Linked DNA regions of Homo sapiens: region 1 is linked to region 2. Evidence: fine-mapped expression QTL. A gene starts in region 2. The other region holds a variant in brackets. All regions are shown on one strand. Distances are between the middles of the regions.

Evidence for each region.
Region 1: its variant is fine-mapped to the expression of LINC03019 in sun-exposed skin (GTEx, PIP above 0.99).

What each region holds. Positions count from the first base shown.
Region 1 is chr8:12,781,371-12,791,352 of GRCh38, reverse strand. LINC03019 (long intergenic non-protein coding RNA 3019) reads left to right here. Exons shown (of 5, transcript NR_152742.1): 2 at 2,909-3,021. Among named protein-coding and RNA genes, the nearest start is that of LINC00681, 7.9 kb to the left of the region's middle. The variant A/G (reference allele first, on the strand shown) is at 4,477.
Region 2 is chr8:12,807,311-12,817,292 of GRCh38, reverse strand. LINC03019 (long intergenic non-protein coding RNA 3019) reads left to right here and starts at 5,815. Exons shown (of 5, transcript NR_152742.1): 1 at 5,815-5,913. The region is part of intron 1 of LINC00681 (long intergenic non-protein coding RNA 681); the gene reads right to left.

The sequences.
Region 1 (9,982 bases), 26 kb after region 2:
TTGAAAACTGTATTTTAAAATTTGAACTATGAGGTGGTTTGATTACTTATTAACATATCTTTTGAAATTCTTAAATTACAACCCATGCATATATTACATTATTGTGAAATATTATGGTGATTGCTTCCTAATTCAAATACTTCGTTTGTAAATAAAATAGTTACACGCCACACATTCTAGGGCTATCCCATGTAAAACCCCTCACATGATTTTAAGTACTAGACATGCAGTTAAAACTTAAGATTTAGGGATTTGTTCTTTTTGTGGCCAGAAAGCATTTTGCCTTCTGTTTTTAGTTGCCATAACAGGAGTAATATGGTTTGGCTCTGTGTCCCAACCCAAATCTCATCTTGTAGCTCCCATAATTTCCACTTGTTGTGGAAGGGACCCAGTGGGAGATGATTGAATCACGGGGTTGGGTATTTCCTGTACTGTTCTCGTGATAGTGAATGGGTCTCAGGAGATCTGAAGGTTTTATAAACAGGAGTTTCTCTGCACAAGCTCTCTCTCTTTGCCTGCTGCCATCCCCCTAAGATGTGACTTGCTCCTCCTTGCCTTCTGCCATGATTGTGAGGCCTCCCCAGTCATGTGGAACCGTAAGTCCAGTAAAACTCTTTTTTTTTTTTGAGGCAGAATCTCGCTCTGTCACCCAGGCTGGAGTGCAGTGGCGCGATCTCGGCTCACTGCATGCTCCGCCTCCTGGGTTCACGCCATTTTCCTGCCTCAGTCTCCCGAGTAGCTGGGACTACAGGCACCCGCCACCACGCCCTAATTTTTTTGTATTTTTAGTAGAAACAGAGTTTCACCGTGTTAGCCAGGATGGTCTCGATTTCCTGACCTCGTGATCCACCCGCCTCGGCCTCCCAAAGTGCTGGGATTACAGGTGTGAGCCACCTCACCCAGCCAAACTCTTTCCTTTGTAAATTGCCCAGTTTTGGGTATGTCTTGATCAGCAGCATGAGAACAGACTAATACAAAGAGTATACCAAAATCTTGGAGTATCCCATCTTCCCTTGTACCTTTCTTTACTCCATGTCCTTACCCAAAGATCATAAACATAATCGCATCCACCACAATTCTTTACGTGCAAGAAGAAACTGCCCTGCTGGCTTCTGTTCAGGAGACTTTCTCTTGAGCACCATGAGCTCAAGTGAGTTTACCCTTACATGCATAATTCGTCCCCTAAATCTCCAGTCCCTTACACTCCCAGGGAGAATGGGAGAGACACGGCTCTTTTCCTATGATGTGCTCGCTGCAGTACTTTTAATGTAAGTTGCCTCTTAGCTTTTTATCTTCTGGTCTGTAGGTTGTTAAACATTTTATAACCATTCCCAGTCTCAGGACTGCCAGATAATTTTTCTATCTGAGGTGTAAGATGAGCCAAATTATTCTTCCTTTATAAATATTTTAAAATATATTTGAATTCACACAAAGACATAGCAAACGATATCTTTAACATAGAGTACAAATACTTCCTCAACATATATTATATACATATTACTTAGCAATATAATTTATTTGGACTTCAGGAATGAGGAAACCAGTTTAAGTCTCTGTTTAAAAAGACTTGTTGGGCCAGTGCGATGGTTCACGCCTGTAATCCTAGCACTTTGAGTGGCAGAGCGGGGAGGATCACTTGAGTTTAGGAGTTCGAGACCAGCCTGGGCAACATGGGGAGAACATAGGGCAATGCAGCTCAGGAGGCTGGGATTACTCAGGGGGCTGAGGTAGGAGGATCACTTGAGCTCAGGAGGTTGAGGCTGCAGTGACCTGTGATCATGCCACTGCACTCCAGCCTGGGCAACAGACACCCTATCTCAAAAAAATAAATAAAATGTCTTGCTATGTGTTCCTCTGTGAGTCCTATTTTTTGCAAAAGACGTTGGCCCATTAAGAAAACATTCCATCTAAACCCTAAGTAATAATCTCAAGTCATTGCTCAAGTTAAATGACGCTTCACATCTCGTGAAATGTATTTGTTTTGATAGCAGACCCATGGATCACATGCTGTTTATAACGCTTGGTAGACTGCAGAAGAGAGTGATATACAGGCAATATGACCCATGTAACCACAGAGGAGAATTGGTCTTTTCTCATCTGCACACATATGACCCAACCATGCTGTCTTGCACGTATTCTAGCTTGCACTTCTTTACTTCCTGGATGAAACAATGATTACTTTTACTTATTTATGACATCCTATCTCCAAAAAGAATCTAAAGCAGCTGGCAAAGTTGATTAATAGCCGTTGGAAAAATAGAGCCCAGGGCCGAAGTTGGGTTTATCAGGAAGAAATTTACACCACACTAAGCATAACAGTTGATCAATGCCAGGAGTGAGCTAAAAATTGCATGGGAAGACTTATTGATGCTCATTATGTAATTTTTTAGCAGTGCAAATACAAATGCACTGTAAAATCTGCAAAATATAGCAGGTTAATCAACCTAGACCATTTGCAATTATGAAAATGTTGTTGACAGCTTCAAAAATAAAGGTCATTTGTGTAACAAAATATACAAAGCTTGTCTTTGAATAAGAGCCACTCCTTACCCGAATAGAAATTAGGTCCAACTACAAACAAAATTTTCCCATAAAGGAAAATGTGAGATTTGCTGATTTGTTTTTCTCTGCCAGCCTAAAGAATGATGATGCCAGGAAGAATTTTTTTGGAACATGTGTACAAACAGGCAAAGATCCCCCTGAAATAAGGCCTAGAACTTTGGCATCATACAGTATTTCCCAACGTAGAATCCTTTATTATGAGGGCATTGAGCTGTTTTGAATTTTTTTCAGAAGGCATATTTTAAAATACATCTCAAATCTGAACATCCTAGTCCAGTCTCCACCATTTCTTACTTGGACTATTGCAGTAGTTTTTCAATTGTTCTTTTTTCTTCCATGCTTTCAGCACTACTGGCAAGCAAAGTGTTCACTGATGAATGAACAATTACATTTACCCACAGACTGAAATATGATGTTATTTTGTTTTGACTGAAATTCCAACTCACTGTGAGAATACTGGTAAGTTCATATAAATCAAAAGTTCTAATTGGAAGTCATTTATATGAGTGTATCATTACCTTTTTCCCCTAAGAATTCTTTTAGACTTTTTTTTAATGACTGCCTTGAAATTTTAGTACAATAGATGCACTGTGCTTTATGTATAAAAGAGTAAGGTGGGCCCAGCGCAGTGGCTCACGCATGTAATCCCAGCACTTTGGGAGGTCGAGGCAGGTGGATCGCCTGAGGTCAGGAGTTCGAGACCAGCCTGGCCAACATAAGGAAACCCCATCTCTACTAAAAATCCAAGAAATCAGCTGGGACTGGTGTTGGGCACCTGTAATTCCAGCTACTAGGGAGGCTGAGGCAGGAGAATGGCTTGAACCCGGGAGGCGAAGATTGCAGTGAGCCGAGATCGCGCCTTTGCAGTCCAGCCTGGGCAACAAGAGTGAAACTCACTCTCGAAAAAAAAAAAAGAGTAAGATGTATTCACTCATACCAGAAGAACCAATTTTTGCTTCCACTGAGAATACATGATCTATTAAGTAAAATGGGGAAAACTAATGTATTACTTAGCATACTATAGTTATTCTCATGGAGAAAATCTTCCTAAATATGGGGTCCATAAGAGAAAAATAGTGGTCCTAACTGATTTTTTATTGAAGTCAAGAACCAGATAAATAGCTGTTAACTCTATCATCTTTCTGGGGTATGTCTTCTTAATGCCAGTTGTATTCCTTCTTCCATATAGTTGAGAAACTATGGAAAATACAGGAAATGTACTGCACACAGAGCCCCTGCCTGTAGTTCCTGTCTAGCTTGCTGGCTATATTGGTTGATTATATGACTGCTATCTGTACCTGTTTACAATTCATAAGACATTCAGGGCTTTGTGGCTTTTTTTCCTGTCTCCTACATGAAGGGGCTCAGACCACAAGCATGCAAAAAGTAAGTAATCAAAGGCAATAATAAAACAACACAGAACGAAACTATAAGAAGATACAAGGCCAAGGCAGTATATAATTAAGGGTCAGGTGACTAATCCAAGAGTTAATGATTTTCAAAGTGCATCTTGTGGAACCTCCAGAGAGGCATCCCAGAGGCTGTCACAGAGACAAAGAAGGGTCCAAATTTAGGTCCAGGAGTAGAGTTTGTCAAGATGTAAGACTTAAGGTCTCCCACCATCACTCAACCAGAACCCTTCACTTTCATACATTTCTTGTGTTGGCGTTTTGCATGTTTTCTTTAAAGAACAATGTAATGATTTAGTCTGTTCTGTGAAGTTTTTTCTATGTTTGAACTGATTGAATTTAGAAAATTGTTTTCAGAGATATGATTTTTTTTTTAATATTGGCACACTTAATGTTAAAACTATTTGATCAGAAGATACTTAAATGTCAGAATCGACCACTGTTGTGAGAATCCAAAGATAATACCAGTGCTCTGAGGATACTTATTGTGCTAGTCTTTATGGCA[A/G]TTGTTTCCAAATGTTAGTATTTATCAGAATCACCTGGAGGCCTTGTTGAAACAAGGGTTCTGATTCAATAGGCCTGGGTGGGGCAATTTGCTTTTTACTAGGTAGTAAGACTTGGCACCAACATAAATAAAAATGGTTTAAAATCACTACAAAAGAAGCCCAAAAGAATTTTTTTCTAAATACTCAAGATTTATCTTCTACACCTGGGGATCCCTCCTGCTCACTTTCGTTTTAGCCATGGTATTAAAATTAAAATACAGGTGCCATATAAGCATCAATAACTAATTTTGAGTTTGTAGGTTCTGTCATATGGTCAATTCCTATTAAGAATCAAAAGACTATGAATGCCTAATAGAGGTGCAAATAGTTCTCTTCCCTATACCACTTTTTTTTTTTTGAGACAGAGCCTTGCTCTGTTGCCCAGGCTGGAGTGCAGTGTCACAATTTCAACTCACTGCAACCTCTACCTCCTGGGCTCAAGCCGTCCTCCCACCTTAGTCTCCCAAGTAGCTGGGCTACAGGGGCATGCCACCTATACCTGGCTAATTTTTGTATTTTTTGTAGAGACAGGGTTTCACCATGTTGCCCAGGCTGCCCTTGAACTCCTGTGCTCAAGCAATCCTCCCACCTTGGCCCCCCCAAATTGCTAGGATTACAGGTGTGACCCACTGAGCCCAGCATCATATACCACTTTCTGCAAGAATATAAAAGGCAGAACAATACCACCCTATGTGATTAAGACAGTTGACTAGAGGTGTCCGGCACTAATCTCCTCTTCAAAGAAGGACCAAAATGGTGAGTAGAGTATGCTGAATAGAGTATGTAAGGGAGAACACTAGAATTCAGCAGGGAAGTGACAAGGACCCTCTGAGGAGGGAAACTCAAGATGATAGCCTAGAGAGGGCAGCAGAGCAGCTGGCCAGAGCCAGGAGGGGTTCCCCATTGTGAGGATTCCCTTTGCAAGAGATCTCCAACAGTCCACATTCCCATAACACACACCTGCAATCGTAGTGACAGGAAAGCCACTCGGGCCTCAAAAGCCCAGTGCTTAGTAAAGGGAGCTGCTTTGAGTCCATGTGATTACATTGTCCTGAAGAGGGAATTCACACTGGGTTCCACTCACCCTACAGAACACAGGCTGCTGCCACATGACACCATTTTAAGAATGGAACAAACACCAGGCTACATCCTGCCCTGGGGTCCAAGAACTCCTACATTTCCACATCCCTGAGGCCCAGCCAACATTCCCCTCATATCCACTTAGAGGGCTGCAGCATCATGACACCAGCTGGACCCAGCAGTGTGACTGCATGCCAGAGACCCAAGCCCCCACAGTGCCCTACACTCTGGGAAACAGGTGGTCTTGCATATTAGGGAGGCTGCCCCTAGGATTTATGGAGCTGAAGCTTGTACTCCCCAAAGCCTGAGAATCACCTGCCAGGGGCTGCCACCACCACCAATTACCTTGCCCCCTCCAGCAGCAGGGCTGCCACAGACCCGAGTGTGCCTCCGAGAGACTCAAAAGCCAATCCACCACTGGCACCTGCACGTGCTGCTAATGGACCCTGGAAATGATCCTTACCAGGGCTCACTGATGCCATAGTCTGTGCTCATGTGCACAATCCAGGGTCCTGAGAACCAGCCCATCTAGCACCCCAGGCTCCAGAAAAGTCTCACCACAGCCTTCATAAACAACTGTAACCTAAGCTACTAAGAAACTCACAGACACCACTGACAATGATACAGTCAAAGAAATCATATAGGAACTACACTATGACACCCACTGCAACCAAACCTAATGTGCTCTACCCAACTGACAGTATAGATATGTCTGCAGGAAAAAGTCTTTCACTGTGAAAACTACTGCATAAAACTGGAAGAAGTGACTGTTACACCAGATGTGTAGATATCAGTGTATGTACACAAAAAACATGAACAAGCCAGGAACATGACACCACCAAAGGAACATAGTACTTATCCAGTGACAGATCCTAAAGAAAAAAAACATAAAATTCTTAAAAAGGATTTCAAAATATTATTAATATAGTTGTATTAATAATAAAATAGTATTGATGTTAATGAAAATATAATTATTAATGAATTGATAGATAATATTAATGATTAAAATATTATTTTCTTAAGGAAACAGTGAGGCATAAGAATACAAACAAAACAAAGACATTTTAAAAAAGAATTCATAATGGGAATGGAAAAATTCAAAGAGATAGTGTATTAGTCCATTCTTGTGCTGCTACAAAGAAATACCTGAGACTGGGTAATTGATAAAGAAAAGAAATTTAATTGGCTCACAGCTCCACAGGCTGTATAGGATACATAATGGTGGCATCTGCTTGGCCTTTGGGGAGGCCTCAGGAAACTTACAAATATGGCAGAAGGCAAAGGGGGAGCAAGCACTTCGCATGTCTGGAGCAGGAGGAAGAAAGGGGGAGATACTACACACTTTTAAACAACCAGATCTTGTGATAACCCACTCTCATCATGACAGTACCAAAGGGGATGGTGTTAAACCATGAGAAACTGTCCCCATGATCCAATCACCTCCCACCAGGCCTACCTCTAGCATGGGGGATTACAATTTGACATGAGATTTGGGTAAGGACACAGATCCAGACCATATCAGATAGATATTATTAAAAAGAACCAAACAGAAATCCTAGAACTGAAGAATTTGATGATAAAATAAAAAATATAATTGAATGCTTCAGTATTAAACTAGATCAAGCAGAAGAAAGAATTTCTGTACTTGAAGACAGGTCTTTTAAAATAACCCAGTCAAACAAATAAACAAAAAGAATAAAAAGGAATAAAGAAAGCCTATGTGACATATAGGACAACATCAAGGGAACAAATATTCAAATTATGAGCGCTCCAGAAGTAGAAAAGATGAGAAAAGGCATAAAAAGCCTATTTAATTAAAAAATAGCAGAAAACTTCTGAAGTCTTGGAAGAGTTATAGAAATGCAGATAGAGGAAGTTTAAACATTCCCAAATAGATTTAACCCAAAAATGTCATCTCCAAGGCACATTATTGTCAAATTGTCAAACGTCAAAAAGTAGAGAGAGAATTCTAAAAATAGCAAGTAAAAAAGCATCAAGTCACACATAAGGGAATCCCCATCAGACTAATATCAGATTTCTCAGCAGAAACCTTACAGGCCAGAGAAAATGGGATGATAGACTCAAAGTGCTGAAAGAAGAAAACTGCTAGTCAAGAACACCAAACTGAGCAAAGCCATAATTCAGGAATAAAGCTACAAATGAAGTCTTTGCCAGAGAAGCAAAATGTGAGGGAATTTATCACCACTAGACTAGCCCTATAACAGATGCTTAAGGAAGTCCTACAAACAGAAGCTAAAAGATGGTATCTACCATCAAAAAAAAAAAAAAAAAAAAAAAAAACATGAAAGCATAAAACTCACTGGTAGAACAGATACACAAGTGAGAAGGAGAAAGGAATAAAAGGTTATCACTACAGAAAACCACCAAGTTGCAAAGATAAACAAGTGAGGAAAAAGGCCACAAAGGATATATGAGACAATGAGAAATCAACTAACCAAATAACAGGAGTAAGTCCTCACCTATCAATAACAATCATGAATGTAGACCATTTAAATCTCCTATTTAAGAGATACAGACTCACTGAATGGATTTAAAAACGGAAGACCCACCTATATACAAGAAATGCACTTCACCTGTAAAGACACACACAGACTGAAAGTAAAGGGTTAGAAAAAGGTATTCCACACAAACGGAAACCAAAAGTGTGTGGGAGCACCTAAACTTATATCAGACTAAATAGACTATAAGTCAAAAAAATAAATAGAAAGAGACAAAGAAAATCATTACGTTATGATAAAGGGATCAATTCAGCAAGAGGATATAACAATTGTAAATGAATATGCACCCAACACAGGATCACCTACATATTAAAAGCAAACATTATTAGAGATAAAGAGAGATACTTACCAATACAATAATAGTTGGGGACTTTAATATCCCACTTTCATCATTGGACAGGTCATGTAAGCAGAAAATCGATCAAGAAACATAGAATTAAGCTGCACTATAGACTAAATGACCAAACAGACATCTACAGAACATTGTATCCAACAGTTATAGAATATGCATTCTTCTCATCAGCACATGAAACATTCTCTAGGATAGATCATATTTTATGCCACAAAACAAATCTCAACAAATATAAAAAATAGAAATCCTATCAAATTTAGGAAATTTCAGAAAAAAATTGATAAATTCCTGGACAGACATAACCTACCAAGATAGAACTAGGAAGAAACAGAAAACCTGAACACACCAATAACAGACCAAAGTAACAAGGTTGAATCAGTAGTAAAATGCCTCCTAACAAAGAAAAGCCCAGGACCAGATGGCTTTACTGCTAAATTCTACCAAACATTTAAAGAAGAATGAGCAACAATTCTTTTCAAACTATTTCAAAAAATTGAAGAAGAGGGAATTCTTCCTAACTCATTTTATGAGGCCACCACTACCCTGATAACAAAACCAGACCAGGACACAACAAATAAAGAAAACATAGATGCAAAAATCCTCAACAAAATACTGACAATCTGAACCTAACAACACAATGAGATTATACATCATGACCCAGTAGGATTTATCCCAGTGATGCGAAGATGGTTCAACAAATGCAAATCAGTACTTGTAATTCTACACTTCAACAGAATAAAGGACAAAAAATGTATGATAATCTCAATAAATGCAGAAAAATAATTTGATAAAATTCAACATCTTTCATGATAAAAACTCTACAAACGTTATGTATAGAAGGAACATACTTCAATAAAATAAAGGCCGTATATGACAAACTCACAGCTACTATACTCAATACAGAAAGGCTGAAAGCCTTTCCTCTAAGAACTAGGGCAAGACAAAATTGCCTTTCACTACTGTTATTCAACATGGTACTGTAAGTCCTAGCCACGGCACTTAGGCAAAAAAAAAAAAAAAGTACATAAAGGGCATCCAGATTGAAAAAGAGGAAGTAAAATTGTCCTTCTTTGCAGACAACATGATCTTATATGTAGGAAAACCTAAGACACCACCAAAAAACTCTTAGAACTGTTAGAAAAATCTAGTAAAGATGCAGGCTGCAAAGTCAGCATGCAAAGAATAGCAACAATTCTACACACTAAGAATGAACTGGCTGAAAAGTAAATTAAGAAAGCAATCTCATTTATGACGAGAAAAGTAAAATACCTAGGAATAAATGTGAAATACATCTACAATGAAAACTTAGAGACACTGATAAAGAAATTGAAGAGGATACATACACAAAAATGGAAAGACATAGCATAATCATGGATTGGAAGAGTTAGTACTGTTAAAATGACCATACTATGCAAAGCAATCTACAGATTCAATGGAATCCCAATCAAAACACTAATGACATTTTTCACCAAAATAGAAAAAAATCCTAAAATTTGTATGGAATCACACACACAC
Region 2 (9,982 bases):
TGCTGGCATTTTTCAGTCTTTTTCTCCAAGTTGAAACTCTATTAAAGAATGATTATTGAAGCAATATGGACATTTTCCCATTACCGGATGCTTCAGATTCAATTTGAGAATTGGCTGCACTGACAAGGACTTTCCTCATCATCTAACATCACTTAGTAGAGAGTGCAAGGGCAGCAATATAAACAAAATTATGTCTTTGTCTAGTAGAGAGAAGAAGGAGGTAGAGGTCAAAATCATTGTCTAAAGTAAGGTGTGAGATCATATGCCAAATTTCAATTACCCACATTAGCCATGTTTCTCTTTGAAGACAATAACACTTCTATCATCATTGAAAGGCTACAGAGCACTTTTCTATATCTTTGTTACAACCCTTACAGGGAAGTCAAGGAGTGTATTGTTATCCTTGTTTATATATATAGAAATGTAGCCTAGAGATTTGCTAAGTGCCCACTAAGGCCTTCGGACTCCTAACTCAGAGCTCTGTCCATCATGACATTATGTTGCCCTACAGAAAATTAAGGAGTCTTTGGTGTTACTATGGATTGAATTGTGCCCCCTCCAAAAAGTATGTTGAATTCCTAACCCCTGTAAGAGGAAAATGCCATGTGAGGAAAGAGGCAGAGACTCAAGTGGTGCAGTTGCAAGCCAAGAAATGCCAAGAATCAATGGCCACCACCAGAAGGTAGGAGGAGGCAAGGACTGCTGACACCTTGGCTTTGAACTTCCAGTCTCCAGCACTGTGAAAAAATAAATTTCTGCCAAAATCAGTCACATGGCCTTCCTTAGCTGCTGGGGAACTTGAGAAAGGTAGGGTACATGCAGCCATGCAGTTTATGATACTTTTTTGTAGAAACCCTAGAAGATGAATACAGGTGTAAATGCTTAAATTTCAGTTAAAGCCAAGAAGCATGGTGTCAATTATTTTCCTGTAATGAAAATGTGGCTCACATAAATGAGCCTGGAGATTTCTCCAAGCACTGACATAAGCACAGAAATGGGTCCTTTCTGCAGAACTACGTCTCCATCGTGGTTGTAGCTTTCTGTATCCCCCCATCAAAGATCTTCCTCACAGGAGATGAAACCTCAGTGTGACTCCGACTCCCTTGAACTCACACCCTTTCCTCCACAGGTGATCTAACATTTTGTACATGTCACTCTTAGCTTTTGTTGGAGACCTGAGAGATGCATCAGTGTCAATGCAGAAATGACAATATTGTTGAAATCAATGCTTACTGATTAGCAAACTCCAGACAGGGAGCAATTATAAACAATAAAATCAGGAAGAAAAATTACCTTCTTCCACTAATGCTACAAAAATAAAACACTTAACTTCCCCAAAGAGATAGTCAACAAATATTTGCTACTGAGACCAGGAGAGTGCTTTCAAATCATGCTTCACAAAAATATAACCCACCAACTACTTAAAAAGGGGGTTTGGTGGTCCAATACGTTTAGGAAATACAGCCTTCTCTTGTGCTGGGATATTCACTATGCACATTCCCACATTGCTTCCTCTGAGAAATATTGTAGTTAAAAACATAGACAAAAACATCTTAGCTAATATTATACTTTTCTGTTACTCTTTTCTCTTATAACAATTATTAATATCTAGGAATGTACTTTGGGAAACAATGGGCTGTGCTATTCCTAAATTTCACCAAGTAGATGATCTGATGCAGGAGAAACTGTGAACTATTTACTGTGCTACATGTAAGGTGGGCTGACCAGAATGGCGCTGCCCCACTCAAGAGGCACACGTGGAAAGACTCACTGGCTTATCATGGATGAGGTGTGAGGCTTATGCAGTTGAGGAACCTTTTAAAGAAAAGAATATAAGATGACCATGTGACCCCAATGTCGGGGTTCCTCCTCAGGCTTTGGAGTCATCCTGGCAAGTGAGGGTTTTGTTTTTTTTGTTTGTTTTTTGTTTTTTTTTAAGGCAGAGTTTCGCTCTTTTTGCCCAGGATGGAGTGCAATGGCGTGGTCTTGTCTCACTGCAACCTCCGCCTCCCAGGTTCAAGCAATTCTCCTGCCTCAGCCTCCCGAGTAGCTAGGATTACAGGCACACACCAACATGCCCAACCCAATTTTTGTATTTTTGTAGAGGCGGGGTTTCACCATGTTGGCCAGGCTGATCTTGAACTCCTGACCTCCGGTGATCCACCTGCCTCGGCCTCCCAAAGTGCTGGGATTACAGGCGTGAGCCACCACGCCTGACGCAAGTGAGGGTTTCTAAAGCTTCTGCTCCATTAGCTTTGTGGGAAATCCACCTTGGCTTAAAATATGACTGGGTTCATGAAATAAAATTAAAACTCAAATTAACGGTGGTATAAACAATATAGAAATGTATTGCTCTTTTATCCCAGAGTCCAGAGATAGGGTTTCCAGGACTGATATTGTCACTGCATTGCATGAGGTTTCTTCTGGGACGTTGCCTTTGACACCAAGTCCCTGGTACGAACACCAGGGTTGAGGAAGGGCTGGAAGAATGGGCGTGTTCCTAACATGCTCTGTGAAATGCACTTTGAATTTCTTACATCCCATTGGCCAGAATTAGTCACATGGCCTTCCTTAGCTGCTGGGGACCTTGAGAAAGGTAGGGTACATTAGCTAAATATCAAGGGTTTGTAGAAGAGGAAAATGAGTATTAAGGCAGCTAGCGTTTTCTGCTCCCTCTCTCTCCCCTCACTCCTCACTCTCTCGACTTTTAAATGTATGAACTCAGAGCTTTATTATCTAGCATTAATATCTTTGCATTGAGGAATGGATGCTCCTAAAATCATCAGAATGGGCTTATACTGTATGTGCTTTTAGAAAATAAAAGGCTTTTGAGAAGAAAGTAAAATAGAAAAAAGAAAATCATGGACTGCAGGGATTCCCAGATTCTTCGTAAGCGAACAGTATTCTTCATTTCCCTGTGTGGTCACGGAAGACCTGATTGAGCGTGAGGCCAGGGAGATACCAAGTGAGAGGAGACAGGGAGTGGGTGCCGCCAACTGCTGGCCCTCGCCACCCACCCCTTGGAATCAGCAGAACTTGAGGGCTGAAGGGAGGGGAACTGACTCCATTTTCCTTAAAGCACCTTAAGCCTTTTATTTCGTTACCCCCAGGAGGAAGCAGGAACGTAGACATTTTTTTGGAAGAAGGTTTTTAAAAGAAAATCTGTACTTGGATTGTTAAAAAGACAGAAACGAAGGAGAGAATGGTCTGAGAAATTTGAGTAGGTTGATTTCTGACTATCTGAGCTATATATTCCTATCAACAGCCTGAGCTCTCAGCTCAAGAGCCTGTCAACACTTCAGCAGCAGCAGAAGATTCCCGGGAAGCATCTCTGGGTGTTTGGCAGGCTCCCCCGGGGCCAACTGCCTGGCCCTTCAGACTGATGGGCTTGGAACTGCTCTTTAAGGAGTGCACTCCTGGAACAAAGGGGCCTTGTTTGTCTCCTCTGTGTTCTGGAATAATCGCTGCCTTTAAAGATGTTGTAGAGTGAATGTGATGCAAACTTTCTGTACTCACATAAATTTTTTTTAATTTTATTTTTTTAAACTGAGCTTAAGGCATGTGGTTGAAACAAATACACACTTACAAAAGGGGTCTGTCTGCTCCACGGGGGTGTTAGATGCCATTCCTAACCCTCCTGGGGCACAAACTTGCACCAGTAAAACAGAAGGCATGAGATATGGCCTATAAGGAACTGTTGTTACCTTTTGTTATGAATGATACTTCAACAACCTCTTACTGGTTTGTTGAGTCTATTCAACTACCTTGATTAGATGTGATCTACAATAGAAAAACCAGATTAAGTCCAAAGAAAATAGTTCTTAACCAGGTGGAGGAAAAAATTTTGGAGAGGTCTGAACTTCAAAGGCTAAGCAAAAGTTAGGATGAATGATTAACAGTTTATAATACTTCACTAAAGTGAAGAATTAATTTTAAAAATACATGTGATGTATACATAAATATAAAGTTAGGTTATCTGGTATTTTGACTAAATACATGTAGTGTTGTACAATACTAATTAATTTATATGGTTCTCTTTTTTAGGTAAGTAGTAATTAATAATTTAGCATTAGGGTTGGTGCAAAACTTATTGCAGTTTTTGCCATATATGAGCTGGTGAAGCGGCATCATTGGTCTGTAATACCCAACGTTTGTTGCCTTGCGCCAAGGGAATCAAGGACGCAGACACACAAACAGTGAGGTTAAGAGTGGAGGTTTAATTGGCGAAAGAAAAGGAAGAGTTCTCTCTCCTGCAGAGAGAGAGAGGGGCACCCCAGCAGGTGTTCCGGTTCACAGCCAAGTGCATAAGATTTTATAGATGAGCTTGAGGAGGCGGTGTCTGATTTATATAGGGCATGAGAGATTGGTGAGACCAGGTGTGCCATTTGCATAGCTGGCCACCCCACCCTAATCTTTAATTATGCAGTTGGTTCTCTACCTGGCCAGCGCCATGTTGCCTGTTTCTTTACTGTACACATGGTGACAAAGAAAAGCGAAGATGGAGCCTCCATGTTGAACCTACCTGGCCCCCAGGTAGGCTTCCCCTATTGCAATGCACAGCCGCCGTCATTCACCTGTGCAAGCTTCCAGCTTGGTTATCTATGTCTGCAGCTTGATTTTACAGGCTGCTTTTTGTTAGAAAAGAAATTATCTGGGGGCTGCTTTTTGTTAAAAGGGAAGCCTTGCCAAGGACTCCCTTACTCTCACTCTCTGCCTAAATAATTTCTTTTTAGCTCCTGTATCACTGATAGAGAGTCAGGTCTGTTTTGGCAGATTAAGTCCATTCCGTTGATCAGACATGTATTGACTTTGTATATTGTGCAAGACAGCTGGGTGGGGATGGAAGAGATAAAAAAATGGGCAGCTATTGTTGCAGTCTCAGCAAGTGAATAATCAATGGGAAGGGATAACTTAGGTCTACAAATAGATATAATTTACCATATTTTGTCATCAATGCTAAAATATAGCTACAGGCAGTAATAGTAGGCTCCCTTTTTGGTGACCGATGGATACTTGCCATTATACTATTTAATTTATATTATGTCCATTAACATGACATGACAAGTCCCTATATGATATTTTAGGAAACTGAGTAACAACAACAAAAAAATAAGTAATTTGCTCAAGGTCAGAGCTAAGAAGCCAAGGAGCCAGGTTTCAAATGCCGATTGCCAGATCCTTGCTCTGGGGCACACTTTGGACACGCAAATAAAGGCTTAACTGTTTCTGGCACAGAAACAGAGTGTCTCATAGAAGTGGCATCTGAGCTGGGTCTTGAGGGGTACGTATGTTAATGATGGAGTGAGGAAAGGGAATCAAGTCATCAAAGACACGGAGATGGAAAAGTACAGAGATTGTTTAAGGACCTGAAAAGAAGTCTGACTTGGTAGCAGCAGAGTGAGAGTAGAGGGAGATGAAACGGAGAGGCTGAAGCCAGCTGGGAGTCAGGTGGCCGCGCAATGATGTCAAGTCATGGGTTTCTAGAATTGTGGGAAGGCCCAGGGCAAATCACAGGGCAAATCACAGCTCTGTCGACTGGTTTCCTCTGTAAAATAGAAATAGAGTAAGATCATAAACTCACGTTCCAACTCTGGATTTATGCTTTCCTGTCCAGGAACATTTAGTCTCCCCTTCCCACTTCCCACCTCGGTCCATGAGGGAAGCAAAATGTGTCCATTCTTCTGCCCACGCCCAGTCCTGCACTAACTCCTCCCCAAAGCAGAGTAAGTGGTTTCCTGGTCGGTGAGAACATGAGAGTGTCACTGCACTGGGTTTTACCCATGGTCGGAATTGCTGAAATTCCTGAGTGGTTAAGGACAAACCCACCCGAGTCACTCTACTGCTGTTTCCTGTGTCCACATGGTAAACTCTCAGCTTCTGGCCAAAGACCTTGGTGGACCCTGCTGACTTGCTGTAAGATCTTCTTACATGTTTTTTTTTTGTTTGTTTGTTTGTTTTGAGGCAGATTCTCACTGTCTTGTCCAGGCCAGTCTGCAGTGGCACAATCTTGACACAATCACTGCAACCTCCACCTTCTGGGGTCAAGCAATTCTCATGCCTCAGTCTCCTGAGTAGCTGGGATTACAGGCATGCACCACCACGCCCGGCTAATTTTTGTATTTTTAGTAGAGACAGTGTTTCACTGTATTGGCCAGGCTAGTCTAAAACTCCTGATCTCAAGTGATCTGCCTACCTCAGCCTCCCAAAGTACTGGGGTTACAGGCATGAGCCACCATGCCCGGCCTTCTTATATCGTTTTTGATGTGTTTTGGAGCATAAGTGGGCTTCCTGATAATCTTAGAGTCAGGCACAGGGACTTAGGCTTCCTTACTTCAACTTTATTATCCAAATTCCTCTTGCTAGAGAGCGTTGCATTGGGATGATTGAGTCCTTGCCTAGCTCTTAATGAAGTGATATTTTGTTTTCCCATTGGCAGTTGTTCTTTGTGTGTATAGATTTCTTGGTTAGAAACTTCTAGGTTATGGAAGAGGAGAAAGGGAAGGAACAGGAGCGGGTAGGGGAGAAAGAGGAGGAGGTAGGAGCAGGAAGAGCAAAGGGAGAAGAAGGAAGGGGAGGGAAGACAGGATACTCATTCCCCAGCCCAGGAAAGGCAGATGCTTGAGAGCCTGATGTCTGTGGGTGGTTGTGGGGAAGACTGGTAAAACTTCCTGGCTTCATATTTTTTTAGTTTCATTTTCAAAAGAAGGAAAAATTGCCCAAATTCGATTTAATTCTACAATTATGGGGCACTCACTACATGCAAGAAACTGTTCTAGAAGTTGGGAGTAGGTTGGACATAGATAGGAAAGAGATAAAAAAGGTTCCCTCTATTTAGTTTCTTAAGGAACTAAAGTACAAAATAGTTTGTCATTGAAGTTAAGCAGAAGAATTCACGTCTTCTAATTTACTGCAAACTCTACAAAATATCAAATGACAAACTGACTCATGAGAGCTCTTAGAAGTGAGAACTGGGTGTCTTCCAGGGGGTTATATAAGACAATAGCATTTATAAAAATGAGCTTCTTTTGTAGTTTTTCTTGATTCTGGAAACTTCAATTACCCTTCTCACTTCTGCTAACTTTTAAAAATCATGCAGAGATGTTATCCAACAAATGCCTGTTTAAGCCAAGGGAGGTCACTCCTAAAGCAACCATCCAAAAGACCTGCTCTTTTCAAATCTCTTCACAGATAACAGAAAGCAAATGTTCAAAATAATTATAAACAAAGGAACAAGTAAGAGATTTCCAGAAGCGAACACTTTTTAAACTAGATCTGAGAAAACACTATTTCAATAGTTAAGATTTATCTCCATCTGGGAACATTAATCCTTAAAACAGCCTGCCTCTGATAAAGCTTTTCTTTCCCGCTGAAAATGAGAATATGCAATGTTCTTTCTCACTGTTCAATAGCGTTTTTGCCTCCTTCTGGGTATACTATGCCGTAGGATATAAACGTCATTCTTTTTATTACAGAAAATATTTCTAAACTTCTACAGGCATATCCCTCCCCCCTCCCCCCACCCCACAACAGTCCCCAGAGTGTGATGTTCCCCTTCCTGTGCCCATGTGTTCTCATAGTTCAATTCTCATCTATGAGTGAGAACATCTGGTGTTTGGTTTTTTGTCCTTGCGATAGTTTACTGAGAACGATTTCCAATTTCATCCATGTCCCTATAAAGGACATGAACTCACCATTGTTTATGGCTGCATAGTATTCCATGGTGTATATGTGCCACATTTTCTTAATCCAGTCTATCATTGTTGGACATTTGGCTTGGTTCCAAGTCTTTGCTATTGTGAATAGTGCCGCAATAAACATACGTGAGCATGTGTCTTTATAGCAGCATGATTTATAGTCCTTTGGGTATATACCCAGTAATGGGATGGCTGGGTCAAATGGTATTTCTAGTTCTAGATCCCTGAGGAATCGCCACACTGAGTTCCACAATGGTTGAACTAGTTTACAGTCCCACCAACAGTGTAAAAGTGTTCCTATTTCTCCACATCCTCTCCAGCACCTGTTGTTTCCTTACTTTTTAATGATCGCCATTCTAACTGGTGTGAGATGGTATCTCATTGTGGTTTTGATTTGCATTTCTCTGATGGCCAGTGATGGTGAGCATTTTTTCATGTGTCTTTTGGCTGCATAAATGTCTTCTTTTGAGAAGTGTCTGTTCATATCCTTTGCCCACTTTTTGGTGGGGTTGTTTGTTTTTTCTTGTAAATTTGTTTGAGTTCATTGTAGATTCTGGATATTAGCCCTTTGTCAGATGAGTAGGTTGCAAAAATTTTCTCCCATTGTGTAGGTTGCCTGTTCACTCTGATGGTAGTTTCTTTTGCTGTGCAGAAGCTCTTTAGTTTAATTAGGTCCCATTTGTCAATTTTGGCTTTTGTTGCCATTGCTTTTGGTGTTTTAGACATGAAGCCCTTGCCCATGCCTATGTCCTGAATGGTAATGCCTAGGTTTTCTTCTAGGGTTTTTATGGTTTTAGGTCTAACGTTTAAGTCTTTAATCCATCTTGAATTAATTTTTGTATAAGGTGTAAGGAAGGGATCCAGTTTCAGCTTTCTACTTATGGCTAGCTAGTTTTCCCAGCACCATTTATTAAATAGGGAATCCTTTCCCCATTGCTTGTTTTTCTCAGGTTTGTCAGAGATCAGATAGTTGTAGACATGCGGTGTTATTTCTGAGGGCTCTGTTCTGTTCCATTGATCTATATCTCTGTTTTGGTACCAGTACCATGCTGTTTTGGTTACTGTAGCCTTGTAGTGTAGTTTGAAGTCAGGTAGCGTGATGCCTCCAGCTTTGTTCTTTTGGCTTAGGATTGACTTGGCCATGCGGGCTCTTTTTCGGTTCCATATGAACTTTAAAGTAGTTTTTTCCAATTCTGTGAAGAAAGTCATTGGTAGCTTGATGGGGATGGCATTGAATCTATAAATTACCTTGGGCAGTATGGCCATTTTCACGATATTGATTCTTCCTAGCCATGAGCATGGAATGTTCTTCCATTTGTTCGTATCCTCTTTTATTTCATTGAGCAGTGGTTTGCAGTTCTCCTTGAAGAGGTCCTTCACGTCCCTTGTAAGTTGGATTCCTAAGTATTTTATTCTCTTTGAAGCAATTGTGAATGGGAGTTCACTCATGATTTGGTTCTCTGTTTGTCTGTTATTGGTGTATAAGAATGCTTGTGATTTTTGTACATTGATTTTGTATCCTGAGACTTTGCTGAAGTTGCTTATCAGCTTAAGGAGATTTTGGGCTGAGACAATGGGGTTTTCTAGATATACAATCATGTCGTCTGCAAACAGGGACAATTTGACTTCCTCTTTTCCTAATTGAATACCCTTTATTTCCTTCTCCTGCCTAATTGCCCTGGCCAGAACTTCCAACACTATGTTGAATAGGAGTGGTGAGAGAGGGCATCCCTGTCTTGTGCCAGTTTTCAAAGGGAATGCTTCCAGTTTTTGCCCATTCAGTATGATATTGGCTGTGGGTTTGTCATAGCATTAGGAGATATACCTAATGCTAAATAACGAGTTAATGGGTGCAGCACACCAGCATGGCACATGTATACATATGTAACTAACCTGCACATTGTGCACATGTACCCTAAAACTTAAAGTATAATAATAATAATAATAATAATAAAAAATAAACTTCTATAGGCATATTCTTAATATATTTTTTCTGGTTTTAATGTTTTCTATGGTAATTATGAGATTAATTTGTTGTTTTCCAAGTAGCTCTGGTGTTCTGTTGACTCTAGCCCAAATTAATTGTTTCAAGAAGAAACTAAAACCAAAGAATTTTGATAGGATAACTGAGAGAGAGTCACACATATGCGAGACTATGGAAAATAAAGTTTGGGGAAGGCAAAGGCAGATTTGTAGATTTCACTGCTGAGTTTGGTTTTTTGTTTTTGTTTTGTTTTGTTTTCAGACAGAGTCTCACTCCTGTCACCCAGGCTGGAGTGCAGTGGCAC